Regions from separate parts of the Homo sapiens genome. Here regions 1, 2, 3, 4, 6 and 7 are each reported to be linked to region 5. The links are microRNA targets in miRTarBase. Many come from high-throughput screens and were not tested one by one. Region 5 holds a microRNA gene; each other region holds the end of a gene's coding sequence. Distances are between the middles of the regions.

Evidence for each region. Region 5 holds the annotated microRNA hsa-miR-7106-5p (UGGGAGGAGGGGAUCUUGGG, at 1,795-1,814, shown strand). A microRNA usually pairs through its seed, bases 2 to 8, with sites in the 3' UTR of a target mRNA and lowers its output. Matches are read on the target gene's strand: a 7mer-m8 pairs with bases 2 to 8, a 7mer-A1 pairs with bases 2 to 7 and ends in A, and an 8mer does both.
Region 1: miRTarBase lists PIGR as a target of hsa-miR-7106-5p. Seed matches in the 3' UTR shown: 7mer-A1 at 2,546-2,552, 7mer-A1 at 2,514-2,520 and 7mer-A1 at 2,380-2,386.
Region 2: miRTarBase lists FDXACB1 as a target of hsa-miR-7106-5p. Seed matches in the 3' UTR shown: 7mer-A1 at 744-750 and 7mer-A1 at 915-921.
Region 3: the mRNA of FNIP1 is a reported target of hsa-miR-7106-5p. Seed matches in the 3' UTR shown: 7mer-A1 at 2,508-2,514, 7mer-A1 at 2,674-2,680, 7mer-m8 at 2,963-2,969 and 7mer-A1 at 3,544-3,550.
Region 4: the mRNA of GIPC1 is a reported target of hsa-miR-7106-5p. Seed matches in the 3' UTR shown: 7mer-m8 at 965-971 and 7mer-A1 at 974-980.
Region 6: the mRNA of GCNT3 is a reported target of hsa-miR-7106-5p. Seed matches in the 3' UTR shown: 7mer-A1 at 3,121-3,127, 7mer-A1 at 2,405-2,411, 7mer-A1 at 2,237-2,243 and 7mer-A1 at 2,042-2,048.
Region 7: the mRNA of FBXW8 is a reported target of hsa-miR-7106-5p. Seed matches in the 3' UTR shown: 7mer-A1 at 3,006-3,012, 7mer-A1 at 1,652-1,658 and 7mer-A1 at 841-847.

What each region holds. Positions count from the first base shown.
Region 1 is chr1:206,926,926-206,930,991 of GRCh38, forward strand. PIGR (polymeric immunoglobulin receptor) reads right to left here. Exons shown (of 11, transcript NM_002644.4): 11 at 1,597-3,488. The coding sequence ends at 3,393. Among named protein-coding and RNA genes, the nearest start is that of FCMR, 7.0 kb to the left of the region's middle. RefSeq lists enhancers at 2,677-2,726, 3,197-3,486, 3,413-3,913, 3,537-4,066.
Region 2 is chr11:111,871,375-111,875,428 of GRCh38, reverse strand. FDXACB1 (ferredoxin-fold anticodon binding domain containing 1) reads left to right here. Exons shown (of 5, transcript NM_138378.3): 5 at 1-1,373. The coding sequence ends at 507. ALG9 (ALG9 alpha-1,2-mannosyltransferase) reads left to right here and starts at 3,848. Exons shown (of 15, transcript NM_024740.2): 1 at 3,848-4,054. The coding sequence starts at 3,947. RefSeq lists a silencer at 3,903-4,054.
Region 3 is chr5:131,641,241-131,645,306 of GRCh38, reverse strand. FNIP1 (folliculin interacting protein 1) reads left to right here. Exons shown (of 18, transcript NM_133372.3): 18 at 544-3,593. The coding sequence ends at 622. Among named protein-coding and RNA genes, the nearest start is that of RAPGEF6, 8.0 kb to the right of the region's middle.
Region 4 is chr19:14,474,788-14,478,853 of GRCh38, reverse strand. It overlaps GIPC1 (GIPC PDZ domain containing family member 1), which reads left to right. Exons shown (of 9, transcript NM_005716.4): 8 at 89-170; 9 at 287-1,092. The coding sequence ends at 438. PTGER1 (prostaglandin E receptor 1) reads left to right here and starts at 3,500. Exons shown (of 3, transcript NM_000955.3): 1 at 3,500-3,592. RefSeq lists enhancers at 1-507, 2,847-3,515 and a silencer at 1,948-2,430.
Region 5 is chr12:113,156,904-113,160,966 of GRCh38, reverse strand. MIR7106 (microRNA 7106) reads left to right here and starts at 1,790; the gene lies at 1,790-1,854. CFAP73 (cilia and flagella associated protein 73) reads right to left here. Exons shown (of 8, transcript NM_001144872.3): 7 at 3,277-3,365; 8 at 1,691-2,266. The coding sequence ends at 3,288. It overlaps DDX54 (DEAD-box helicase 54), which reads left to right. Exons shown (of 20, transcript NM_024072.4): 20 at 1,858-3,794. The coding sequence ends at 2,090.
Region 6 is chr15:59,619,322-59,623,381 of GRCh38, reverse strand. It overlaps GCNT3 (glucosaminyl (N-acetyl) transferase 3, mucin type), which reads right to left. Exons shown (of 3, transcript NM_004751.3): 3 at 659-4,060. The coding sequence ends at 3,827. Among named protein-coding and RNA genes, the nearest start is that of GCNT3, 9.6 kb to the right of the region's middle.
Region 7 is chr12:117,027,457-117,031,522 of GRCh38, reverse strand. FBXW8 (F-box and WD repeat domain containing 8) reads right to left here. Exons shown (of 11, transcript NM_153348.3): 10 at 4,019-4,066; 11 at 375-3,495. The coding sequence ends at 3,351. Among named protein-coding and RNA genes, the nearest start is that of TESC, 70 kb to the left of the region's middle.

The DNA.
Region 1 (4,066 bases), not on the chromosome of region 5:
TGCTTGAGGCCAGGAGTTCCAGACCAGCCTGGGCAACAAACAAGACCCTGTCTCTACCAAAAAAAAAAAAAAAAAAAAAAAAAAAAAAAAAAAAAAAAAATTCCTAACCACTGTTTGGCCTTAATAATGCCCAGCAGTGGTTGAGCATTAATAATAGTTGGGCCTTCATAATAGTCCTGTTGGGCCTTAATAATAGTCCTGTCTTTACATATTGGACTTTTAAAAAAGAATAAACATTAAGATAATTCAAGAACTTGGGAAAGATTTCCTTGTCATCAAATGTTTAAACAGTTCCTTGAATGCTCGGGGCCACTGACCGTTGCTAATTGGTTTATCATCATCAATCCTGCAGTTTATGGTCACTCCCCTATACTAAGCTGAATCATATCCTCTCCAAACTCACGTCCACTGGAACCTATGAACTAGCTTCCTTATTTAAAAGGGTTTCTTGTGCTACACGGGGAGCAGATGGACTTTGAGCCTTACTGACAATATCACTTAGGAATAATATAAGATCGCTTTTGGCTTTAGTGACATTTCTTGACCTTTGCTTCAAAGGGCTGGGATAGGCTACACGAGTTCAGGACTGGCTCGCTGGTTATTGCAATGCGTACAGAAGTTGCATCTTAATCCTCTACCATAAACATGGCCCTTTGGTGAGTCAGAGAACAGCTTCCTGGAAGGGTAAGACAGTGGTAGTTTCTGACACACCTGTCATTTTGATCCTCCTGGAACGATTTGCTGTCATTCCAGAAGGTATGCATCCCCATCACAGAAGAAAGAAAAAAACATTTCTGATGCCCCCTCTTCTGGCTGGATAGAAGCCCAAGACTCTGACCCAGGTCAGGGCCTGGGAACTGAGACTGGAGTACTGCAGTTAGTGGGGCTGGAGGGAACACCAAAGGAGGCCTGAAGTCTGAGTCCCAGGAAAAGGTAGGCTTGGGAAGCTCATAGCATCCACAGCATTATGTTTAAGGCCTGGGTGGAAGCAAAGGTTCACATCAGGCAGGATGGCAGACTGGGGAGAACTCTCTTGCAGAGAGAACTCTCCACACACAGAAGCCCTGTGGAAGAGTCTAGGGGTGAGATGGGGGGCTAGCTGCCAACAGACAGCTTGGGCAGCCCTTAGAGGATATGACATGGTTCAGCACCAGAACCTAGGAATGATCTTAACAGACAAGGGGGTCCCAGGGTGCCTAAAATTGGGACCAAAGCAAAAGGCAGCCAGATGCAGTGGCTCACATCTGTGATCCCAGCACTCTGGGAGGCAGAGGTGGGAGGATCAGTTGAGCCCAGGAATTCAACACCTGCATAGGCAACATGGCGAAATTCTGTCTCTACAAAAAAATACAAAAAGTTAGCCAGTGTGGTGGTGGACGCCTGTAGTCCAAGCTACTCTGGAGGCTGAGGTGGAAGGATCACTTGAAACCAGGAGGTTGAGGCTGCAGTGAGCCATGATTGCACCACTGCACTCCAGCCTGGGCAACAGAGTGCCCTGTCTTAAAAAAAAAAAAGGAAAAGAAAAAGAAAAGAAAAGCTCTGAAGAGGCTGTCTGGGAGACAGAAGGTATTGGGTGCAAATACAGTCTGAGCCTCGTTGGTGGCAATCACAGTCTTTAATCATTAATTGTCATATTTCTGATTTGTTAGCAAGTGCCAGCTTGTAGGCTGGTTGAAGTACAGAACTCAGAGGAAAAAAGAAATTAAATTTTAGCTTTCTGGAGAGCAGCCCCTCTCTGGCACCATCAAACACTTCTTTGTTTCCCTTCAACTTGGAACTCTTCAAACATCAGGGGTTGTGAGGGTTTGGCCATTCTTTTATCTTGGGTCCATGTGAGTGACAGAAATGGTGCGGCCTGGGAAAGATCTCCCTCCTTTACATTTTCTCTTCTCCCTCCTCCTCCTTATTCTAAAACTGTGCCTCCAACAGAGGGGCAGGGGCTCTTGTAGAGAGATCCCTGGCCCAGGACAGGAGATGCCAAATCTAATTTATCTCACTGAGGGCCTTTGAGAAAAACGCTTCAGGGCCAGGCTCAGTGGCTCATGCCTATATAATCCCAGTACTTTGAGAAGCTGAGGCGGCAGATCACTTGAGGCCAGGAGTTCGAGACCAGTCTCGTCAACATGGCGAAACCCTGTCTCTACAAAAAAAAAAAAAAAAAAAAAAAATTAGCCAGACATGGTGGCCCACATCTGTAGTCCCAGCTACTTGAGAGGCTGAGGCATGAGAATAGCTTGAACCTGGAAGGCAGAGGTTTCAGTGAGCCGAGATTGTGTCACTGCATTCCAGTCTGGGTGACACAGTGAGACTTTGTCTCAAAAAAAAGAAAAGAAAAAAAGAGGCCGGACGCGGTGGCTCACGCCTGTAATCCCAGCACTTTGGGAGGCAGAGGCAGGCGGATCACGAGGTCAGGAGATCGAGACCATCCTGGCTAACACGGTGAAACCCTGTCTCTACTAAAAATACAAAAAATTAGCCAGGCGTGCTGGCAGGCGCCTGTAGTCCCAGCTACTTGGGAGGGTGAGGCAGGAGAATGGTGTCAACCTGGGAGGCGGAGGTTGCAGTGAGCCGAGATTGCGCCACTGCACTCCAGCCTGGGCGACAGTGAGAGACTCCGTCTCAAAAAAAAAAAAGAAAAAGAAAAACGCTTCACTCTTCCAAACCTCAATTTTCTTATGTGTGAAATGGTAAGAATGTGGGTTTATAATTACCTGTGTGTATGCTCATCATACATGACCCCTAAGGCCTTAGGACTCGAGACATTTTATGACCTCTCCCAATAGGGGCAGAGGTGAGCACCCCTGGTGAAAAGTTAAGACTCAGTGAGTATAAATACGCCAAGAAGAGCTGTGGCTTCTTTCACTGGTGTCCTCAGAAAGGCTGTGAGCAGTGTTGGTGGCATACCTGTCACAGCATCTAGCAAAGCACCTGAATTCTAGTATGAATTCAAATACATCTTTTGATGGAAGGAAAGAAGAAGAGGGGAAGGACGGGAGGGAGGGATGGAGTGGAGGGAAAAATTCTGTTGACATCCCATGATAAGGGTGCAGAGGGGCGCTGCACGTCTCTCCTTTCTGCAATCAGCTCTCCCACCCTGGTCCCTCTTCCTTCAAGGGACCCATGAGGACCTCTATTCTTCTCCGTACCTGAGGTTCTCTCAACAGAAAGAAGTTGCAAGTGGGACCTCCTCATGCCACCCTCATCCCCAATAGGAACAATTAGGCCAGGCTTTGATGTCACTGAGGAGGGGACCAGCACGCCTCTGAGGACAGTAGGAAAAACCTAGGCAGGTGTTAGAGCAGGGAGTGGGGTCCCCAGGAGCTGAGGGCCCCAGGATCGACATGATTCTGAAGGTGATTGTCATGGGTGCAGGGAGCAGGCGGCGACACCGTCTAGGCTTCCTGGGGGCCGTCCTGGGCCTCGGCGGCCACGGTGCTGGACTGGAGCAGGAAGTCTTTGTAGGCCATCTCGGCTTCCTCCTTGGATGACTAAGGGGCAAGAGGAGAGGCATCAGTGTTGGGGGCACTGGCTCAGTGGGTGGAGTCAGGGGAGGGGAGGTGCTTAATGTCCTGAATTCGTGATCTTGGTCCAAGCAACACAAGCCTTTGGGGCCCACTGTTCTCATCCCAGCCCCCATGCTCACCAAGAAGGACGCATTTTGAGAAATGGAAAGTTGCAGCCTCTAAAAATATCTTCTTCTGTCTCACTACCTCCTTCTGACACACGGAGTGGAACCGCCTCTGTTGCCCGGGCCTGTCCCCGGAAGCTGCCCACACAGTCCACGGGCAAGGTGGCCTAGGCTGGGGTCAACCACGGTGGTGTATGTTTTTCTTTCTCCACCAGCCCAGACAGGTAGCTTTTTGGCACCACAAAGTTAAAGGGGAAGGCTGTCCCAGGAATAACTCGTTCTAACTTTGCTAAATGCCAGAGATGTTTCAAGAAAAAGTAGATATGATAAAAACAACAACAACAACAACAAAAACTCTCACCTCGGGATTAAAGGCATGAGATGTTATTTTTCTTGGTCCCCTGAGTCCTAGGGCAGATTGAGGGGATGGTATATGGC
Region 2 (4,054 bases), not on the chromosome of region 5:
TTTAGCCCAGATTGTACTGAGGATCTAATTATTGGGTCTGTTATCACATCTGCCACTAGTGTTATACATAAAGACCAGTGTTTTGTGTTTGTGTCTATGAACTTGGACTTATTAGCCATGCTTGTCTGGTGTATCTCTGACTGGAGAATGTTGTGGACGTTTGATAACCGTTTCCTGAAAAATTTTGTCCCTGGCAAAATAGAACCCTTTAAAAGTCATTCTCTGTATCCTCCATGTTATGTGCATGATGTTAGTTTTTGGATAGATCAGAAGAAAGGATTTGATGAACTAGAGTTTCACACTGTGGCCCGAGCAGTGTCTCAGGACACTATTATATCCATACAGTTTCTTAGCCGTTTCCAGCATCCAAAGACTCAACAGGTCAGTCTCTGCTATAGATTGACCTACCAGACCTGTGACAAGGCCCTCACCCAGCAGCAAGTAGCATCAATGCAGTCCCAGTTTAGGAAGGAGATTCAACAACACCTATATGTTATACCTCGGTAGTTTGGTAAATCCTTTTCTGCAGTGTGATCCTTCATTGCGGGGGATGTGGAGGAAAATTACCAACTTGCAACCAGTAGTCCTTTCTGGATTTTTGTTTTTGTAAAATCTTTTACTTTGTGACCATAGCTACTGTTCGTTGATCTTTTTTTTTTTTTTTTTTTGAGACGGAGTCTTGCTCTGCCGCCCAGGCGGGAGTGCAGTGGCAGTGGCATGATATCAGCTCACTATAAGCTCCACCTCCCAGGTTCATGCCATTCTCCTGCCTCAGCCTCCCGAGTAGCTGGGACTACAGGCACCTGCCACCACGCCTGGCTAATTTTTTTTTTTGTATTTTTAGTAGAGACGAGGTTTCACCGTGTTAGCCAGGATGGTCTCAATCTCCCGGCCTCGTGATCTGCCTGCGTCGGCCTCCCAAAGTGCTGGGATTATAGATGTGAGCCACCGCGCCCGGCCTACTGTTAGTTGATCTTAAAGATACCTTGACTCTATTACTGAAACTTATAGATTATAATGTGATTGGTGACATTTGGAGTTGTGTAATATTTTGGTCCCGAGAAGTGACTAAAACAATAAACAAAACAGCATCTTGTACTTTAGATGCTCTATTGTTGAACAGGCAGTAGAACTTAAGTGTCTCATCAAATATAAATATGTTTTCCACACTGTCAATTACTCTTCCCTTAACTTTGTTGTATCATTTCATTAAATCACCTTATGAGAGTAGTTTTTGGCATCAGACTAACATTTATTAGCTTGGGAAATTGCAAATATTCCACATTAATTTTGGTATTATTATTATAATCATCACCATTTTAATTCTGTGGTTGAAAGTCATGGAACGAATAAAGTGTCAGATTTAGGGTTAACATTTGGGTCTGTTTGACTCTAAAGCCCATGTTCTTTCTGCTACTTTCTGTTACTTCTTCCCTAGTCTTTAACAGTAATCGTTCAACTGTGATTAAACTTTGCCTCTCTGGATTTTGGGGCCTTCTGTTGTAAGTATCTCTAAGGGACACTGGAAAATTAGCTTAGGATTCTGCAGAATGCGGTACTCTAATGTGAAGTAATGTATGCTCCTGTTAATAGTTAGGCTCCACATTTGGGATTATATTCTGTGAGAGACATGACTGTCTTATTTATTCTTAGAGAAAAGCACTTGGGAAGGCAAGAATGGAAGTACAGAGACAAATTAGGAGGTTATTGCAGTAATGCAAATGAGATAATGACCTGGACCAAGGTGGTAAAATGTTGGGTTGGATAATATTTGGAAGGACTTGCTGATGAATTAAACATTTGTGTGTGGGTGAGAGAGGTGTGGGGTTAGAGAAATAAAGGAATTAAGCAAGACTACTAGGTTTTTGACCTGAATACCTAGAAGATTGGAAGTGTCATTAACTTGGATGGAAACACTGCCATACGAGTAAGTTTGGGGAGTGGGATAAAGAATCAAGGGATCTCTTACAGACACATCTATTGCTGAGCTCTCCACATTGACTATTTTGCTAACTGATGGCAGGTAATGTGATTTATCCCTTTCTTCTATCCTCAGTAGTGCTTGGTACATGTATAAGGTAGCGTTTGAAAGCTGGATCTTAAAACAAGGGCAGGAATGTGAAGGGAGAATTGTTAGGCAAGTAGGGTGTGCATTTTGGGCAGAGGACATCCATAAACAGAGATATAGATAAGGGAGCATTTGGGGGCACTTTCTAGGCTAGTTAGCTGGGATGTAAAGTGTGCATAGGAAAGTAGTGGGAGATAAGATTGGAACGGTAAGTTGGGGCTGGAGTTCATGAATACCAAATGCTAGAATAAGGAGTTTGTACTTTATTTGGTAGGCAATAGGAAAACATCCGGTGGTTTTTTATTAAGGAAGTGCCCCAGAGTAGTGCTTTGGAAAATTAACTGGTTAATGTTGCACAGGATGAATTTGAGATGAGTGATCCCTGTGGAGATGCTATTGTGTTAGTCCTACGTAGACAGGGAGGGACCTGCATTAGACTTAAATGAAAAGGAGGAGATGGGTATATGAGATACAGTTAGGCTGGGTGTAGTGGCTCACGCCTATAATCCCAGCATTCTGGGAGGCTGAGGTAAGTGGATCACTTGAGGCCAGGAGTTCCAGACCAGCCTGGCCAACATGACGAAACCTAATCTCTACTAAAAATACAAAAATTAGCCAGTGTGGTGGCAATAGTCCCTGCTACTAGGGAGGCTGAGGCAAGACAATCTCTTGAACCTAGGGGGCAGAGGTTGCAGTAAGCTGAGATTGTGCCACTGCACTCTAGCCTGGGTGAGCAAGGAAGACTCTTGTCTCAAAAAAAAAAAAAAAAAAAGAAGAAAAAGAAAAGAAAAAAAGAGTTAAGCTGGATATTTGAACTTGGTAACTAATGACTGCATGTGAGAATTGAGCAATATGATCAATCTCCATTTTCAATACTTGGGAATTTTTAGTAGGAAATCACAACCTTCTGAGACCTTGTCAAGAGATTAGCATTCCCTCTATAAACTTGTCCCAGTTACTGGCATGGAGCTCGACAGGGTAGGATATAGCTCTGTGATTAGAGGAGTGGATAGAGTGTCAGGATTAGATGAATGACCCCCAAGATATGGGGGTCACAGGTATGATATCATCAATGTGCCAGTATAAAAATGATTGTAGGAAATGAAGACCTTTCACCAGATCTGGTGGGAAGAGAGAGCATGGGCTTTCCGGTAAGATAGTCCTGGGCTGGAACATAGCTCCACCATTTACTAGCTCCAAGTTTATTTAGTTTCCTGGTAAATAAAACAAGGTTGTTGTATTAAGTTTAAAAAGGATAAAATATGTAAAATGCCTACCACAATGCCGTAGTAGCGATGACAGTGATGGACATCTGGTTCAATTTGCCGCACAGAATTTCATCAGTCTACACTCTGCCATTACCGGTTTGTCTCTCTGAAGCAGTTTTTAGCTACAGGCTGCCTCTGTCACTCTTACCAAAATACAGAGAAGGCAAGGTGTTAAAAATGACATTTTAAGGACCTTTTAGTAGATAGCTGTGCTGTGATATTTAACTGAATACTTCACATCTCACTATGTAGATTTCTTTAATCACTTTCTATTTGTTTTTTCATTTAAATAGGGGAGCTGAGAGGTGGTTTTTTTTTTTTTTGAGAATGGAGAATGCTGAAAAGTGACGGAAAAGAGGGTTGGAGGGAGGTAGGAATGGCTAGAGTTAGAAGCAGGTGGATGGGACAGCCCTGATGAAGAAACTCCTCAGGTTCTATTTCTTCGCTACTCGGGGATCTGCCCCAATTGGCCCAGTAACGCTATAATTTAGTATTTTCTGCGCATGTCAAGGTCTTTTGTCCCTCGGCGGACACCGTTTGCCAGCCAAAGCTATGTCTGCGCGCTCACCGACTTCATAGGGTGCCGAATTCTTTTTTCCCCAGGCTTGCCATGGCTAGTCGAGGGGCTCGGCAGCGCCTGAAGGGCAGCGGGGCCAGCAGTGGGGATACGGCCCCGGCTGCGGACAAGCTGCGGGAGCTGCTGGGCAGCCGAGAGGCG
Region 3 (4,066 bases), not on the chromosome of region 5:
ACAGGGTCTTGCTCTGTTGCCCTGCTGTTGGTACATAGCTGACTTCAGCCTCAACCTCCCAGGCTCAAGAGATCTTTCTGCCTCAGCTTCCAGAGTAGCTGGTACCACGGGCACACACCACCATGCCCAGCTAGTTTTTAAAATTTTTTTGTGGAGACAGGGTCTCATTATCTTGCTTAGGTTGGTCTTCAACTCCTGGGCTTAAGCGATCCTCCCAACTAGGCCTCCCAAAGTGTTGGGATTACAGGCACGAGTCACCTCACCCAGCTATTATTACACTAGATTGCAGTTGTTAGTCATTGTGCCATGCCCCAGTTCATGTTCCATCAGCATGTCATTGAGACACTTTTCTACGTTTATGATGTTGTTACTCGTATCTGTAGTTCTGTGTTTTATTTACTGAGAATTTTTCCTTTCGGCCAGAGTGGCCTAGCTCCTTAACCGTTGAGGTATAGTGACCTTACAGTTGGTGGTCATTGCCTGTAGAGTTCATGTCCTCAGTACAGAAAATCAAAACTGACATTTTTTTCCCCTTTATTTCAGGATTGAATCCAGTGATCTTCCACTTCTGGCTGCTGTAGCAAGCACTCACTCTCCATATGTTGCACAAATACTCCTTTAATATACCTAAAAATTGTTAGAAATTGGTGGGAAAATAGGTAGAAACCAAGGAAGCAGACACAACATGCATTTATGGAGATTCTTTTTCCCTTTTAGACTTCCATCTGAATGAGTCAGTCACCAGGGTATTCTGCATAGCATTGTATATTCTGTGTATGTCAGATGGCTTTTTCTTTTTGACTGGACTTTTGGGTGGTGGTAGATTTTTAAACAAATGAAATTAAAGCAACAATAATTTTGAAGCATTTGAAAAAGCCAAAGTGTACGGTAGAAATTTCTACAAAATGAATATTATCAAGAGTTTCATGTGATCACTGCAGTGTTGTCACAGCTCATAAATAGCAACAGTGTCTCATGATTTAATGGCTCAGAAATAGTTATTCATTAGTTTTTAATTTTTAATTTCTAAGGTACAGAGATCTATAAAACCTTGATTATTTGTTAGTTTTGCAATTCAAAACAGCTAATGTCTGGTTATTTCTCAAAGTAAGTATTTTAAACAGCCTGTTAATTATAAGAAACTCAGAATAATGAGTGTAAATGTGTTATGTTATCCACCCAAGTGTACATATGTACCTATTTTTTTTTAAAAAGCAGAAATAGAAATACAAGACTGGTAAACATGCCTTTAAAAATATATATATTTTCAACTAGTATTGTCTATAATGCTGAAATATTACTTATTGGTGATTTTTCTGTTTCACACACTCTAAAATATAAGTAAAGCCAACCTTTTTTTTAAGGCTGAGATTCCCAAAATGAGAATACTACTTTATACCATTTGTTTATAAGTATGAACTGTTCTTATAAATATTAATATTTACATATTCACTAATTTAACATAAATGAAAATTAGGATTAAAAATTGCACCAAAGCATCGGCAAAAACAATACTATATTCTTTAAAAGTGCTCAGGTAGCCAAGGCCCTTGCTTTTGGTATCAACCCTCATGAACCCATAGGAGCTGAATATTTGTTTCACTGCTTAATAATCCTCAATTTACACTATTCATAACTCTTAAAATTATTCTCTTTTTTTCTAAGAGTCCCTCCCTTCCAAAAGTGTATTTTTTTCAAAGATTTTCACTTCTCAATTGTTGCCTTTGTACATACTATAGAGTGTTGCTTGTAAGAAAGGCTAATATGGAACCAAACTCTTGTAAGTAATGTAAATAGAAAGGTGGGTGGATAAAGTTTTCAATACTTTCTACTACCTCAGTTTACTTGAGTACTACATTATAGTTTATTCTTTGCTTATCTGGTCTAAGAGACTTTTAATGCTAGTAGTAAAGTTGGTTTCTGCTTTCATTGACTATTTTCATCATAATTTCATCATTGATTAAAAAAAGAAAACCACTTGTTTATTCAGTTATTAAATATATTTACTATATAACACATCCATTCTTGCTGTTTAAATTTTCAATAGTTAATGGAAAGTTGTCTTTGACCTTGAATTTACAGCATTGGGTCACATTTTGCCTTGCTGTGTATGTATTCAAGAGACTTCCAACTAGACAAAGAAAAAATTGTTGTTTTAATGGAATGTAAACCTGAAATTGGTGTGTCTGCAATCTGTTTGGCCCATGACCTTTTACCTAGTCCCAGTTATTACCTGAGTCTCCCATGGATGACTTGCTGCCAAGGAGTGTTTGTGGATATATTTTCTTTGGCTTAATTTTCTTATTCTGTGCATTAACAAAATTATCCAGTTGTCTGATTTTGGAATTCTATGAGTCAATCTTTTTGGCAGAATTCAGAATATTAAAAAGTTCATACATTTGCGGGCCATTGTACCTTTTTTTTTTTTTTTTTTTTTTTGACGGAGTTTCACTCTTGTTACCCAGGCTGGAGTGCAATGGTGCGATCTCAGCTCACTGCAACCTCCGCCTCCCAGTTCAAGTGATTCTCCTGCCTCAGCCCCCAAGTAGCTGGGATTACAAGTGTGCGCCACCACACCCAGCTAATTTTTTATTTTTAGTAGAGATGAGATTTCACCATGTGTTGGTCAGGCTGGTCTTGAACTCCTGAACTCAAGTGATCCACCTGCCTCGACCTCCCAAAGTACTGGGATTACAGGCGTGAGCCACTGTGCCCAGCCTTGTACTTTTTTTTTTTTTTATTGTAGCTCTGTATAGCACTTGGATAATGTCTGGGTGTCTCCTTAACCATCAAACTGTTCTTTATTTAAAATGTTTAATTACCGTTTAGAAATTCTAGTCCTCAATAAGTGGGTGGCTCATGCTATTGTTGTTCCTAAAGCTAAGCTTTGCTGGGAAGGAAATGACCTATAGTTTCTTAAAGAATCATTAATCCTTATAGGATTCCTGAGTTACTGTTTTGTTCCTCCCCACTGCTTCCCATTCCTGAGTTTTGTAATTCCTAATCCTTCTATAATTTCTATTACCTTCACCATAGTCATTCTTTCCTTACGCAAAGCCCAAGGAATGAGCTGCTGCTACTTTAAAGTGTGGTCATTATGATGAATGTGAAAAGAGTTTTGGCTTGTTCTAAATAATTTTTACAAGTTATGGTACAGACAGTTGTTACATATCAAAAAAAACCTGTTTATTGAAACAGGAAATAAAAAAGGGATCTTTTACATTATAGAATTAAAACTAATTTTTTCTTGTATATAAACTAATTGGTTTGATTTTAAATATTTCTGGCTTTTATTAATATGTCTTAATTTTGAGTTTGAAAATGTTAAGTGCAATAAAAACATACTAGTACAGATTTTGTTTTGTTCCAATTGGCATACTCTGGGGATGATCACTTAAAAAAACAGATTTTACATAATGCCTACTTCTGGTAGATGTCTTATGAGATTGTTCTGCTTTTTCTAAGTTACTTAGATGTTGGATATGTACATAGCTGTTTCTTGTTCTGTATACATTTCTCAAATGTACACTTGTATTATAATAACCTCCCAGTTCTAGGGGATATTTGTGCAATAAATACACATGTCAACTTGATGGATGGTGTTGGTCTTTCTTTCATATATTAAGGTATACGTAACATGGACTGATGTCTGTCCAGACATCAGATGACAGAAGTTATGGACTGATATAACTTCTGTCAAACTTAGAAGTTTGACACTTCTAAGGATGTGACCTTTCCTCATTGGTATTTCCATATTGGTAATTTAATAGAATCTACTTCATGAGGTGGTTGTGAGAATCAAGTGAAATAATGAATGTTAAGGATTTAGCTCAGTACTGGCATACTCCAAGTGCTAAATAATTTTTGGCTGCTACTTTTACCAGATAATCTGTCCAGCCTTCCTCTTGTGGCCCCCCACCTATTGTTTTGCGAATTTTTAGCGTATGTTCTTATGAATAAAAACATAGTAACAGAAAATATAAGAGTATCTTCTTACAGCGAGCAACAAATTGAAAATTTCTTTAAATGCTTTTATGAAAGCAAAGTGAACCCAACAATCTAAAAA
Region 4 (4,066 bases), not on the chromosome of region 5:
ATGTAAAGTGGTGACAATGGCAGTCCGTCCAATTACTATGTATATTCACATTGTTATGATGTCGCTGTCACCCCTCCCTGGCCCCCAGCCCTCTGCCTTTGAAGAGAAGGCCATTGAGAAGGTGGATGACCTGCTGGAGAGTTACATGGGTATCAGGGACACGGAGCTGGGTGAGTGAGGGCTGCCTGGGGGAGGGGGCATCTAGGTCTGCTGGGGGCCGAATCCACCCTGAGCCCCTTGGTCCCTGGTGTCATTTGTGCCTCCGTTCTGACCCCTCCCCCAATAGCGGCCACCATGGTGGAGCTGGGAAAGGACAAAAGGAACCCGGATGAGCTGGCCGAGGCCCTGGACGAACGGCTGGGTGACTTTGCCTTCCCTGACGAGTTCGTCTTTGACGTCTGGGGCGCCATTGGGGACGCCAAGGTCGGCCGCTACTAGGACTGCCCCCGGACCCTGCGATGATGACCCGGGCGCAACCTGGTGGGGGCCCCCAGCAGGGACACTGACGTCAGGACCCGAGCCTCCAGCCTGAGCCTAGCTCAGCAGCCCAAGGACGATGGTGAGGGGAGGTGGGGCCAGGCCCCCTGCCCCGCTCCAATCGGTACCATCCCCTCCCTGGTTCCCAGTCTGGCCGGGGTCCCCGGCCCCCCTGTGCCCTGTTCCCCACCTACCTCAGCTGGGTCAGGCACAGGGAGGGGAGGGATCAGCCAAATTGGGCGGCCACCCCCGCCTCCACCACTTTCCACCATCAGCTGCCAAACTGGTCCCTCTGTCTCCCTGGGGCCTTGGGTTCTGTTTGGGGGTCATGACCTTCCTAGTTTCCTGACGCAGGGAATACAGGGGAGAGGGTTGTCCTTCCCCCCAGCAAATGCAATAATGCCCTCACCCCTCCTGAGAGGAGCCCCCTCCCTGTGGAGCCTGTTACCTCCGCATTTGACACGAGTCTGCTGTGAACCCCGCAACCTCCTCCCCACCTCCCATCTCTCCTTCCAGGCCCATCCCTGGCCCAGAGCAGGAGGGAGGGAGGGACGATGGCGGTGGGTTTTTGTATCTGAATTTGCTGTCTTGAACATAAAGAATCTATCTGCTGTTGGACCTGTGTGGCTTCGGGGTGGGAGAGGGGGAAGATTGGGGCTGAGAAAGAATTCAGCAGCTGAAATCCATCTTCCGCAGGCTCCAAATTGAATTAGGAGCTGGCACCAAGCCACCTGCCCCCTCCCACTGTTCCTTCTGGCTGCAGGCCACCAGGCTTCCAGGCAGGGCCAGAGCTTCCTGGACTACTGAGGGTTCAAATCCTGCCCCCTCTCCCACAAGGCCTCCTACCCCCTGGAGCTTCACAAGGCTGCTGTCTGCAGCTGGTGACAACCCCCGGACCGTGGGGAGCACCAGGGCATTGAAACCTGGCTTGGAAATAGAAAGATGGAACCTCAGGCCTGCCAGAGCCCCACCCCTACACCGGGAGGTTGGGGGCAGGCGTGAGGCAGCCCCCACCCCACCCGGCCCAATGCTGGACACGCAGGCGTCCATGGGGCACCCTGCTTTGTCCTAGACATAAACCCAGCATACTTGTTTTGACAACCCACTCATCTTCGAGGATTGAGGGTGATCAGGGAAAGGCGGGGTGGGACCCTGGCCAGACCTGGAGGGAAGGGAAGGGATTGAAGCAAGGGGCGCTGGGCCAGAAGGCCCCACAGGAATGCTTGGGGGTGAGCCGAGAGGCTGTGGGGAAGTCCGAGGCCAGCTTGCAATCCTCGTTCCAAAAGGCGGGCGGGCACTGGGCCACCAGGAAGAGGGGAAGGGGGAAAAGGGGAAGACCCTGGGGGCTGGGTGTTGGTGGACAGACCCGGGTGGAGTCGGGGAGCCGCAGTCCTGGTGACTCAGGGCATCCCCGGGCACCTGTGGGCTCCTCAGGTGTCTGTGCTGGGAGCCGCTTGCGGTGGTGAAGGGGTGTGGCTATGTGTGTCTCGGGTGTTGGGTAGCACTGTGAGTCTATCAAGAGTGTTGATGGCTCGTGACGCAATGAGGGAGGGCTGTGTCGTGGGTAAGGGATGTGATAACCGGCTCTGTGTTCCAGGGCAATTGCAGGTGTAACTGGCAGTGTCTGGTGGTGGGGAGTGCAACGGAGTGACTGTGTCTTGGGGTGTCCCGGGGTGTGGGGGTGTGTGTCTTAGGGTGCTGTTTCTGGGGCAAGGAGGGGTGCTTGGCTAGGCCTTGGGGTGTTCAGGGGTGTCAGGGTATGTCTCGGGGTGTTGCTGTTTCCTGGGTGGGGGTGCTGGCTAGGTCTAGGGGTCTCTAGGGGTGCAGGTGTGTGTGTCTCAGGGCGTTGCTGTTTCTGGGTGAGGGTGGGGGTGGCCAGCTAGGTCTCTGGTGTCCAGCGGCGGGGGGTGTCACTTCTTGTGCCTTGGGTGTACGGAGTGTGCTGGTGGGGCCTGTCTGGGATTGTTGAGGGGTCATTGAAAGTCAAACAGAGTGTGGTCAGGGGCAGTTTTGGCAATAAGGAGTGTGTGTGCGTGTGTGTATCTCTCGGGGTGCCAAGTGAGACCCTATTTCCCAGCACTAAGGAGGGTGGTTCGGGTGATCATCTCAGAGGGCTGCATTTTGGGGTGTTGGGAGGGGCTGGAATTGAGGCAGTAACTCTGGGTGCGTCCCGGCGCTGGGGGTAAGACCCTGAGTTCAGGGATGTGGCGGCAGCAACCTGGCTGTGCTGAGATGGGGACAGGATGAAACTGAGTGGTAAGTGACAGGATTGTATGTCTTAGGGTGTGAGGCTGTGCCAGTGTGACCCTACTTCTCAGGGCAGGAGGCGAGTCTTTGTGTCTTAGGACGTGTGTCACAGGTGTCACTCAGCCCATCTTAAAGGAGCCAGTCACTGGGGAGAGTCCCCAGGTCGCCAGGCCTCCTGGTTCCCCTGCCCCCTTTCAGCCTCCTCCCAGGATATGACTCGCTGTGGCCCTAGCCGGGGCTTAAGCCCCTGTATAAATAGGCGGATCCCCTGGCCAGGCTGGGCCTGACCCAAGCTGGTCTACCCGAGGCCCTGCCCACCAGCACCCACCCCGACATCCACGAAGGCTTTGGCAGGGCAGGGGGGGCATTGCTGGCCCCACAGAATTGGAGTTAGCCTCTCTAGCTCCAAAGCCCCAGGGAGGGGGGCAGTGGCACCCCCTGCAGCTGCCCCAGCCCGCCCCAGACGACGCTCACATTTTCCAGTGTTTAGATTTTATCCGCTTTATTAATGAGGCAAGAGGCCCGATCCTGGGGGGGAAGGGGGCTGCTCCCGCCCTGCTGGGAGGAGGGGGTCACATGGGGCCAGACCAACTCCAGGGAGCCTCACTCCTCGTGGAGGGAGCCGCTGGGGCCCAGAGTGGCCCCCGCCCATTGCCAGGAGCAGAGAGGGGGGTCTCTGCCACTCCAGGCCCCCAGCGGGCGTGCGCGGGGTGGAGCGGCCCCTGGAGGCCAGCAAGGGCGGCGGGAGGAGCTGAGGAGCCGCCCCAGGAAGAGGGAGGGAGGAAGCGGCTTGCCGGAGAGCCAGGGCGCAGTGGGCGGCAGGGCTGAGCGGCCGGTGATGGGGACCCCACATCCCAGGCAGTGCCGGGTAAGGGGGTTGCACATGAGGGTCCCTGATTGGGGAGGAGGAGGGCATGAAGGGGTGGGGCCATGGCCACCTGCTGTCCGTCCTGTGTCCCCGGGCTCTTCTCCCTGATCTGTGCGTCCCTGTCTTACCGTCTGTCCATCCTCCCTTCCCATCTGGCCTGGTGGGCAGTTCCGCCCTTTCAGCCCTCACCACCAGGATATCAAAGAGTGGATGGTCGTGGGGCCGCCTCCAGGCCTCTGGGGCAGGGATATGGAGTGGAACCGTGGGCACCCAGGGTGAGGCAGAGGTGATCGGGGTAGGGCCTGGCGAGAGACCGCAGTGGAGCAGAGGCAGGTCCATGGGGCAGGGGCAGAGATGGGTCCATGGCACAGATGTGGCTGTGCCATGTGGGGTCAGAGATGGGTCCATGGGGGACAGGGACATGGCCGTGGGGAGAGATGTGCCCGTGGTGGTAGAGATGGGGCTGGGGCATCG
Region 5 (4,063 bases):
CAGGGATAACTTCTGGTAGATGCCCTGTTCACCTAATTAAGCCGATTGTGTAAAATCCTAGAGAACCCGGGAGGTGGAACCTTGTGCAAATGCAGGCCATTTTCACCTGCAAAAATGGCATTTGCATGTGGTTCGACCTGACAGTGAGCATGAATTGATTCCCTGTGGCATCCTTAGGAGTGACGTTCTTTTTAGCAATGCTGTGGGGAAGTTCATGTCACCAAAGACGCAGTCAGAAGCAGCTTTGGTTCTGGGAGGAGGCGATCACAGGGGATGTTGAGGAAGATACTTCCTTGAAATGTGGGTTGGCAAGTGGTACATTTGGTCATCTGAGGACTTGGACCTCTTTGATCTGGCCTGGGTCCCTCAGCCAGTAACAAGCTAAGGTGGATTTGAAGCCGGCTCTGTCTGCCAGAGCCTGTGCTTAAGGGCTGTTATCAGGGAGGGGCTCCCGCTTGCTGGGTGCAGGCAGGCTCTGTCCTGGAAGGCCACACATGACCTGGGAGGCAAGGTGACTGCGAATACCCATTTTACAGGCCAGGAAACAGGTGCCTTATGAGGGCTATGACTGAACCTGGGTCACCCAGCTGCCCAAGGCTCCCACCTGGAGTCTTCCCTGGGGAGAGGGGAGTTTGGGACCATGTCTTGGGTCTCTCTCAGATGGCCTTAGCCCCTGCTTGTGTCCCTCCACCTCCTGGGGCTGGTCACTGCCTCCCCTGGGTGTCTCTGTGAGCCTGCGTGCATTTGCCTGGGCCTGTTCTCTGTGGCTCCTCCCTCTCCAGCTCTCCCATCTGTGGGAGTGTCTCCTTGTCAGCATGGCTGGGTGGGGACCACCCACACCTCACTTCTCAGCCTGTTTTTACCTAGGTGAAACAGCAGCTTCTGCTGCGAGCATTGCCGTGCAGTGGGCGTGCAGGGGCTGGGGAGACGGGGGCGACCTGTGGGCTTTGGGAAAAAGCAGCTGTTCTTCCTTTGCTGTCCTCATTGGAGGTGATAGGTCCTGCGAGGCACCCTGGCTCCATTGGAGACAGCTGGGACCACCTTAATGGTCATCCCTCTAGGAGCCCTGGGGAGGCTGCTGTTATGAATGGGGAAGAGGAGGAGGAGGACACAGGGCTTAGTGGGAGCCAGGGAGGGTGGTGCTTGCCTCCCGGAGAACTAGAAGAATGGACTACCTGATGCCCACCTGTGGGGCTGGGGCAGGGTCGCTGACCTCTGCTGCTGCTGCTGCTTTGCTGTGTGATCTCAGATAAGTCCCTCTCCCTCTCTGGCCTTCTTTGATTCCTCTCCCACCTAAAGGAAGGTTCATCTACACTCTTTTTTCATCTAACAAGCCTAGAGCATGGTGTCCATGGAGACAGAGGCTGAGGTCTGTATCGGTTACTATGGGGGGCCTCAGAGCCTGGCGTGCCGTAGGTGTGCTGTGGAGACATACACTCCTTGGTTGGAGAATTTTTAATAGTAACAGTCATGCCCAAAAGGCTCCCACTATGGGACAGGCCTTGAAATTCTGACCACTTTACACCATGGAAATGCATTTACTCTTCACCCATGAGGGAGGTGCTGTGATTTATAATTCATAGATGGGGAAACTGAGGCACAGAGCCGTTAACTTCTTGCCCACGGTCCAAGAGGTCACAGCTGGGATTTGAACCCCAGCGGTTCTGGCCCCGTGTTATTGACCACTCCATGAGGCTGCCTAAAACTTTATTAGCCACCTACTGTGTACAGACACTGGGCCACAGCAATAAGCACAGAACAGGAGTAGGGGCAGGGGAGGAGTCTGCAAGCTTCTGGGAGGAGGGGATCTTGGGAGTGATCCCAACAGCTGAGCTCCCTGAATCCCTGTCCCAGCAGGTGCATCCCGGCCCCACGCCCCAGGCACCCCTGCAGGCCGAGTCCGCCCGGAACTCAAGACCAAGCAGCAGATCCTGAAGCAGCGGCGCCGGGCCCAGAAGCTGCACTTCCTGCAGCGTGGTGGCCTCAAGCAGCTCTCTGCCCGCAACCGCCGCCGCGTCCAGGAGCTGCAGCAGGGCGCCTTCGGCCGGGGTGCCCGCTCCAAGAAGGGCAAGATGCGGAAGAGGATGTGAGGACCAGGACCCAGCCCCGTGGCTCCTTGATTGGCCTTAGGGTGGGCATCAGCAGACGTTCCCGTGCACCACTGTGTGCCTGGCCCTGTGCTGGGCACTGGGGGCACTCCCTGCAGGAGCCATCATCTGTGAAAAGGAGCACTGTATGGCCACAGAAGGGCAGCAGCTGCGTCAGCCTAAGACAGAGACATTTGAACAGGGCCTTGAAGGGTGTGCAGGAGTTCGCCAGCAAAGCCAGGCAGGCCAAGACTTGAGTTGGCAACTCAGCTGCTGCTGCTTCCATGTGTTCTGGGTTCAGAGGTCATGGCTGCACCGGTCAGAGCCCTGAGTGCCTCAGGGTTTGGCAATGGAATTTTTAATGTAATAAATCTTTATTGAGCACTGCTGGTGGCCAGGAGTGCGGTCTACTTGGGGAACTGGAATGGAGAGACCCAGGTACTAAAATCCCAGCTAACGTGGCAGAGGAGTTGCGGGTCTCCTGAGGGTGAGTTCTGCTGCCTTGTCCATTTAGCGATGAGGAAAGTGAAGCTCAGAGCACAAACCAGGTGCCAGAGGCGGGAGTTGGTCCCCCTTCCTCCCACTGGACATGGTTGCAGCTGGGAGTGGGCTGGGGGAGGGGAACAGGATGCCCAGCCCAGGGGGCAAGGACACAGCTGCTCCCCTCTGGCTATGAAGAGGTTAACGCGGCCCCTCCACACCTGGAGGTCAGAACCTGGCCTGTCCTCTGTCTTCTTGCCACCCACCCCCTGTTTGAGGTTCTGAGAAGGTCAAGGGCAGCCCCAGCAGCTGGATTCTCAGGCTGGGCCCCTCACCTGGCAGAGTCCATAGTGGAGGGGGCCTTGGTGATCTCTCATCTAGCATGGACCCTGTTCTGAGACCTGACAAAGAGTTTTTTTTCATGCCCCAACCACCCTGGCAGGGAGGGCCTGGTCTGATCTCATTTTAGAGGCAGTTGCCCCACACATAGCCCCTTGACCTTCCCATCACCTCCTCATCAGGGCCTGCATTTATGGAGTGCTTGCTATGTGCCCCTCATGGCAGGCCCACAGCACTCTGAACAGGCACAGCCCTCCCATCTTCCCAATGAGGAAACGGATTCAGGAAGAGCCACTCAGTCCACACCCCATTGGAAATGTGGGCCCTCCTATCTCAGGGTCTCTCAGGGGTTCCCTCTCCCGCTGCTCACCTGTGTCAGGGCTAGGAGGCAGGGGCTGCAGGCTCAGCCTGACCCAGGCCGGCCAGCATGGCAGAGAGGTCCTGCATGAACAGCTTCACCTGGGGGGGCCCAGCACGAAGTCACATCCCAGCCCCAGAGTCACTGTCCAGCCCCCACCCCTCAACACGCGGGGGAGGCCGAAAGGTAGGGCGGGGACTGGAGATCCCCTCATTAAAAGAACAGTGATGATGGTGGTTCCCAGAGGTGGTGACTGAGATCCTAAACCGTTCTGGGTTTTGAAAGCCTCAGGCCAACCTTCCCAACTGCTGCGTGAGCAGACACCTTCACAGCTTCCTCGCTGCTGTCACCTGCACTATCCAATTAGTATTTTCATTTACATCAATCAGCTTTATTTTCTTGTAACTGGATCAGTCATATTCATTGGTTTGTGACCTACTCTTATCTCCGTGGGTGGCTCTCCTTTTGTTTTAATTAACTTCTTTATGAATATGAACTTAATAAATACCATGGATCCATTGTAAAAACTAGAACTTGAGGGTGAACTTACAACCATCTGTGGGCTCCCCCTCATATTCATCACCGTATCAACAGCTGAGAAGGAAACTTTTTATCTCCACCAAAAATGGAAAAAAATAGTTACCCCTTGTCATAACTAGGGGGCAACTGGAAAAATAATGCAATGAACAAATGAAGCTGTTACTGAATTCTGGCAGCCGCAGGACAGTGTGAGTCCCAGGCCCGGAGGCCAGGGAGTGTTAGGGGAGGTGGGAAAAGGCATCATGTCCCTCCGTGGAGC
Region 6 (4,060 bases), not on the chromosome of region 5:
TTGTTTTTGCTTTTTGAGACAGGGTCTCACTCTGTCACTGAAGCTGGAATGCAGTGGCACAATGATCATAGTTCACTGCAGCCTCAGACTCCCTGAGCACGCCTGCAGTTCCAGCTACTCAGGTGGCCGAGGTGGAAGGATTGCTTGAGCCCAGGAGGTCGAGGCTGTGGTGAGCCATCACTGCAGCACTGCACTCCAGCCCGGGCAACAGAGTGAGTCCCCCGTTTCCAAAAAAAAAAAAAAAAACATTTTTTCCACTCAACCAAGAGAAAGACAAAAACTACAATGAGCAGAGTGTACAACAAAAATGCAGTTATTAAAACAATGCTTACCAATAGCCCACAGATAAAAAATAAGGAGGAAATCCAAACCCTGAGAGGTAATACAAACACAGTTGTTCAATTAATTTGTGAGATTTTTCCTTACCAGAGAACGGTTAAAGACACAGATATGACTCAGAGGGAAGAGAAAAATCAGCAGATGTGTTGGTGTATGATTTCTATAATACACTAAACAAATGAGGGCTAAATTCGACCCCTCTGATATGAAGACCCTGTGTTATTAAATAAACAGCACTTCCTACGCACCTGAATATATTTCTAGAGAAAATTTCAATGGTTGAAAAATTTCAGTAACTTATCCCCAAAAAAATGACAAGTTCACATTTTAATCTTTTTATTTATATAAAAAATTATAAATTATTTCACATGAAAGCTTTTGGAGTAAGTTAACTATGAGGCCAAAGTTCTTTTCTCAGAGAATCTGCACCCAGGGAGGCTTTTCTGCCTACTTCCCACGGTGGCCGTGTGCCCCTTCTACCTCCTTCAGAGGAGGACCAAGGACCATCACATCAGCCAGCAGGGGGAGGCCGTGATCGATCACCACTGCTGGCAACAGACCTCTCAGGGCACACCCACTGTGTATACAACTAGTCATCAGTCATCTCCGTAGTGGGGTTGGGAGCAAAGTGAATAGGACTCTATTACAATGCAGGCAAGTTGGTAGTGACAATGACCATTATCTAAGAAGTACAACCTTACCAAAAAAAGGTAACTTTTTTTTTTTTTTTGAGACTCAGTCTGGCTCTATCGCCCAGGCTGGAGTGCAGTGGTACGATCTCAGCTCACTGCAACCTCTGCCTCCCATGTTCAAGCGATTCTCCTGCCTCAGCCTCCCAAGTAGCTGGGATTACAGGTACCCACCACCATGTCTGGCTAATTTTTATATTTTTAGTAGAGATGGGGATTCACCATGTTGGCCAGGCTGATCTTGAACTCCTGACCTCAAGTGATCTGCCTACCTTGGCCTCCCAAAGTGCTGGGATTACAGGCGTCAGCCACCACACCTGGCCAAAAGTAACTACCTTATAAATAAAAAATTCACTGTGTCAGACACAGTGATAACTGTCAGAGTTACAGGGTTTGCATAGAGAAAGTTGATCATGACAGAAAACTTGATGAATTGAATGACAACACTCAGAAAGGGCTGGGTGCGGTAGCTCACGCCTGTAATCCCAGCACTTTGGGAAGCCAAGGCAAGTGGATCACTTGAGGTCAGGAGTTCAGACCAGCCTGACCAACATGGTGAAACCCTGTTTCTACTAAAAAAATACAAAAAAATTAGCCAGGCAAGGTGGCACACACCTGTAATCCCAGTTACTCAGGAGGCTGAGGCAGGAGAATCGCTTGGACCCAGGAGGCGGAGGTTGTAATGAGCCAAGATTGCGCCATTCGTTGCACTCCAACCTGGGTGACAGAGTGAGACTCTGTCTCAAAAAAAAAAAAAAAAACAAAAATCAGAAAGGAAGAAACATATTAATGACATCATGACGTATTAATGGGAGCATCCTTCAGATTACACCAATTAACTTGCATATAAATCACCTTTCCAGGGCATATCGTATGCAGAAGATGAGCTGTACTATATTCAAAGGGCACTGCCTATGTTTTTATAGTATCCCTTGCCCATCACAGAAGAGTATAACTTAGCCAACAACCATCTCTGGAGCTTCGGAAAGGAAACTGTTTCACTAGGTAACACTTGGGAGGTAGCGTGCTGTATGTGTGTATACATACACACACATATATGTATTTACACATACCTTATTGTCTCCCCGCAAGGAAATGTGTAATCTGCAGAATCACTAATAGCGATCCTTCCATTCGCATTCTGAAATAAGAGTTTTGACTCAAGAGGGGACCAGGCATGGTGGCTCACACCTGTAATCCCAGCACTTTGGGAGGCTGGGGCAGGTGGATCACTTGAGGCCAGGAGTTTGAGACCAACCTGGCCAACATGGTGAAACCCCATCTTTACTAAAAATACACAAAAATCAGCTGGGCATGGTGGCTCACATCTGTAATCCCAGCTACTTGCAAGGTTTGGGGGGAGAATCACTTGAACCTGGGAGGCAGAGGCTTCAGTGAGCCAAGATCATGCCACTGCACTCCAGCCTGGGCAACAGAGTGAGAACCTGTCTCCAAAAAAAAAAAAAAAAAAAAAAAAAAAAAGAGTTTTGACTCAAGAGGCCTAAACATGGAATAATAAGACATCCTGGTTTAACTGAATAGTCCTAGTTTATTTTTATTTCTCAATACAATTATTAATAGTGCAGACTCTCCCCCTACAAAAACATGTTCCACTTTGAATAATGAATTACACATTACCTTACCTGATTGGCTATTATCTCCTTTATGGAACATTAGCTAAGCTTTGGCTGTAAAGTGGACAAAATTAGAATTAGTGCTGCGATTTTCCTGTAAGAGTACAGGAAAGGTGGTCAAACTGGTTAAATCACCCTGCCTTTTCCTTTACAGAAAAATCACAAACCTGGCAATATAAACAAAATGAGGATGGCTTTTAACAATGGAAGAACCATCCCTGTTCCCCTGTCTTCGTTAGAATTTGCTATTTGTAGGCCAGGCGCAGTAGTTCCCACCTGTAATCCCAGCATTTCGGAAGGCCGAGGCGGGCAGATCACAAGGTCAGGAGTTCAAGACCAGCCTGGCGAATATGGTGAAACCCGGCCTCTACTAAAAATACAAAAATTAGCCAGACATGGTGCTGCATGCCTGTAGTCCCAGCTACTCAGGAGGCTGAGGTGGGAGTATCGCTTGAACCTGGGAGGCGGAGGTTGCAGTGAACTGAGATTGCACTACTGCAGTCCAGCCTGGGTGACAGAGCAAGACTCTGTCTCAAAAAAAAAATTGCTATTCATGCAGCTTGTCAGGACCATTTCAGAATAATGAGAACTCTCTTGCCAGCCCCTAGGGATTTTAAATGTCATGAATAGTTATGAGAAAAAGTCTCACACACTTTATCTGTTTATATTTATATTATTTCTGGCATACTAGGCAAAAAGTAGAGGTAATACTTTGAATCAGGAGCTATTTATTTTTAAGTTAACAGTACAGAAGGGAAGGTTCTCTTTCCATCAAAGTTCTCCTCCACGCTACCAAACCTGGAATTATTAGGAACGGCAGCTCCACAGAATGGAAAAGCTACCAGCAGGCATTCAACTGAAATCAAGTGCTCTACCACATATCCCTCCTTCACTCTCCCTATCACAGCAGTTCTCATTCTCACTTAGTGAGAAAGTTAGTGGAGGAACTACTAGGGTTAGGGGTGAGAGAACAAGCAGCATTCACCCAGGCAGCAATTTGCAAGGCAAAAGATCTACTTACCCACACTCTAATAGCAGCCCTCTTATCCTAAAGGATGCCACGAATTGCAAAGCCCTGGTCTCCCACCCACACTGTCCCAGCAAGTTCTGAGCATGTTTGTACATGCTCTTGCCCCACAGGTAGCAACGCTCTCATAGTGTGTCTCAAAGTTCAGTCCCATAGATGGCCTTATAACGTAGGTATTCTTCTAAGCACTGAAGAGCATTATCATCTACCTTTGGGTCAAACTTGTTGGCCAACAGGTGATGGTTTTGAAGCATCCAATTCAAGTCCCCAGCCCCATAAACGCAGATAGCCCGCTGGTGGATTCCAGAGCAGGGAGCATAAGGAGCACCCTTATCGATGTCTCCCTCATGACCCTGCCACTTGACCAGCCT
Region 7 (4,066 bases), 3.9 Mb from region 5:
AGGCTGGTCTTGAGCTCCTGACCTCAGGTGATACGCCTGCCTCGGTCTCCCAAAGTGCAGGGATTACAGGCCTGAGCCACCTTGCCCAGCCAAAATTAGTTTCATTATACCTCATTTTGCTTAAAGTTGTAGTTTCTAAGAAAACCTATTGATGACGGTTGGTGAAGAGTTACTGTACCATGTTGCGGGTCTCCTGGATCCTGGGCTGGGAGCGCCTGTAGGGGAGGTTCTGGGCAAATCCAATTGACTGTGGGTTTACAAAACCACCACGGTGGGAGGTAAGATTTCAAGGGGGTGGGAAGAGCTGGAATCGTGGCATGCCAGGGGATTATCACTGTATGCCTTGCCCAAGTTAAAATAACTTGACCAATAAAGAAATTCAAAGCATTTAATATTAGAACAACTACGGACATCATAAAGCAGAAAGCAAGTCCGACAGTGTTTTGAGAGGCGATATGAGATCTTCAGGTGTTTCACCATCCAGCTCCCCTGGCAGCATGCTCGAGTATCTTCTACCTTTAGGGGAGCCGGGGATGGAGGCGTCCCTGAGAGGGACTAAAGAAGGAAAGTAGAGGATCAATTGGCTAAAAACTCAGAACTTGTTTGTGAAAGGGTCTGGATAAAGGTAAGGGGGCTTAATTTGGATACATGTTGGCTTATAAAGGAGCATTTATCCTTTCCCTGTCAGTGTGATTGATTCCAGGATGTGGAGGTTTGCAGTAGAAAACACTGCCTGAAGTTGGCGTGCTTGAAGATGACAGCTTGAGTCCAAAAAATTCTCCTTTACAAAACCCAGGCGACTTCCACGAATGGCAGGTACGTTAGAAACAGGCTCTGCGGTGGGAGGGGCTACACTTGGGACATTTTTACACTGGGCCAGCTGCTGGCTGCTCTAATTCTGGGTCTAATGACTTTACACTCCGTTATCTTTAATTGCTGCAAACTAGGAAGGGCGAATGCGCCTGCAAAATGAACTGGGAACGCAGACTGAAGGGGCTGCTTTTTGAAAAGAAAAATATTTTCCCCAGTGGTCCAGACGCATTAAGACTATGAGAGAGAAAGGGCGGGGCTTGATGAAAACCTTCTAAAGCGAGGCCACCAGCGAGCAGTCTGACCACCACATGACATGATGAAAGTAAACAAAATCCTGCATTTGCTACCTACAGGCCATCTCCACTTAGGAAGTTATCTGGTTGAAAGGAAGCAGAAAACCCTCCGGTCCATCTGCCTGCAGGTAGGCAGGGTCTGAAAGAAAGCGCTCTGGACGGGAAGGTGACGCTTCCCAGTCGCAGCTCTATCTGCTCCGTTCCCCTGTGTAGTTGGAGATGAATATGGAATGGCTGCGTATCTTAAGCAATCTGAAAAACCTTCCAGAACCTTCATGACGTGAAGGTTCTAGGCTTTGGAGTAATGGCAAGCACTTCCCACTGATACGTACACGTGTGCAACTGAGAGGACTCGGTTTTCTCTGGAATGAGTGTGGACAAACGGTTCCCATGTGGTAGGTACTTCTGCATCCTCAGGTACCTTTTCTCTTCCTCATAGACCACTGTACCTTTATGTTTTATCAAGAGTTGTATATTTTGTCTTTTTTTTTTTTAAACTGCTTTTGGGCTGGGTACAGTGACTTACACCTGTAATCCCAGCACTTTGGGAGGCTGAGGCAGGCAATCATTTGAGGTCAGAAGTTTGAGACCAGCCTGGCCAACATAGCAATATCCCCCGTCTCTACTAAAAATGTAAAAATTAGCCAGTTGTGGTAGCGGACGCCTGTAATCCCAGCTACTCAGGAGGCTGAGGCAGGAGAATTGCTTGAACTCGGGAGGCAGAGGTTGCAGTGAGCCGAGATCAGGCCATTGCACTCCAGTCTAGTCTAGGTGACAGAGCGAGACCCCACCTGAAAAAAAACAAAACCTTCTGGCTTTATATTAACTAACTATTGGTTTTCGATTCCACTGATGTCTGTTTTTATCCTGATTTAACCCCTGCCTTCTGCTGCTTTGGGATTGCTGCTACCTTTTCTGAGCTGAGGTGCCAGCCCCTCACAGCCCCTCCCAGCCCCATCCCCTGGGTTTTGTATTCTGTGCTTTTACTGTCAGCCCAGTCTAGAGAGTTTATAGTTTGTTTTTATTAACCTCTTTAAATCCAAGTAAATTCAGGAGTGTCTGGAATTGTCTTATTTTGCTTTTTGTTGATTTCTCACTATTCTGCATTGGAGTCAATTCCTAGAAAAGCAGGGCCCTGCCTGAGGGTATAGCCCATAGGGTGCAGTGTCTTGGGGTTGGGGGATTCTATAATTTGGCCTGTATGGTGTGAATCTTTGTGCATCTGAGCTGTTCTTTGTGGCCTTCGTACAGGGTGGTTTTTTGTGCATCGTCTATGTGTATTTGAAATTCCATACGCATCTACTGGATCCAGCTTGTTAGCGATACTAAGTAAATCCTCCAGATCTTTACATTTTTCTCACTGATTTGCCTGCCGTGAGAATGGATTTTATTTCTCTTTGTAGTTCTATCAGTTTTCGCTTTGATATTCTGAAGGTATATTAGGTGGATGCTGTTGCTGTTTAGAACTGTTGAAAATCAAGAGTAAGGCAATGGCTTGCTTCCAGAATACTTTGGAAATGGCAGCTCTGTATCACACTGAACAGTTCTCTCCTGTCCTGTTTCATCTTGATGGCTGTTTAGTCAATGAATATTTAGAAAATATTTGCTTTGTATCACATATCATAGACACAATAGTAAGCAAAATAGTCATTGATGACTAAACTGTATAAGTATATAATTATAAACCATGGTAAAAGCTGTGAAGAAAAAGTACAGCTCTACCAGCTTGCTACTGGAAGGTGGTGGTGGCAAGTGTCACAGAAGAGCACCCCAAGTAAATACAGGGAAAAGGACATGGAGGTTATTGCCTTGGAGGCCAGGAACAAGCACATCCAAAGGCCCTCGGAGGAAAAGAGGTAAGGGGCTGGAGACGGAAAAGACGGCCTGCAGGGCTGGAGCTGGGAGGGCGGACACACAGAAGCTGGCTAAGCAGGGACCGTATAGGACCGCGCAGCGAGATCCCTGAGGCGTCCTGAGGGAGCTGAGGCCAGGGTGGCCAGCTGGGTGGGGAAGGAGGCTATGTTTGAGTTGGCAGCACGTGGGACTCGAGCCCTGGCACACGCCAGCTTGCCCCAGGCGCTGGGGGAAGTGCAGGGGTCAGGGAGATGCGTGCTGTCAGGCATGGCACCCTGGGCTGCTTTCTTCCCCTAAATGTTTACCACCTGTGAAGAGGTGCCTGGCGTTTTAAGATGGATAAAACTGGTTCTTCCCATTTTTCTCCTTGCTCCCAACTGAGGCACATCCCTAAACATGGTTATAGGGAAAGGCCAGTGCGAGGTCGTAGTAGTGAGTGGCCATGGCGTCACAGGATGAACGGCAGACAGGGAGAGGGCTCTGGAAGGCCAGCTGGTCCACCGCAAACTCATAGGCGCGGATCAGCCCCCGGTGTCTAGAAAGAGCACAAAGATGGTGACAGGTCAGGGCTGCCTCGCTGGCCCTCACCCCAGCCGCTTCTGTCTGTGCAGGAGGCGTTCGCCTGAGACCAGATAGAGGTTCAGCTTCACAAACGCGTTCTCTGGGCACACAGCGTCAGATACTCACAGTCCCCGGCTTAGCGGTCAACGTGGGGGTGCACAAGTCCGATGGGCGCAGTGAGTGTCACAGGGCAAGGACTCAAGAGGGCGGGCCTTGCCCCTGACAGGATTCTAACCACAGCAGGCCCCTCAGCATACGGCTTGCCCTCCCTCTCTGTACAGCCGACAGCGTGGACTCGCCCCACGGGGCTGTCCTGCATCAGATGCTGGGTGCTCAGTACAGGTCAGCATCCACGTTTATGTTTCCAATTCGCAGAAAGGCAGGGCCCTGCCTGAGGGTATAGCCCATAGGGTGCAATGTGTCACGGCGGGGGGGGTGGGGTTCTATACATCAGTCAAACTAAGATGGTCTCTTACTCGCCCGGCCCCACCACTAACCTCCTGTGAGTAGTGAAGCTGTCCAGGTCGGCGTTTCGCATTACCGTC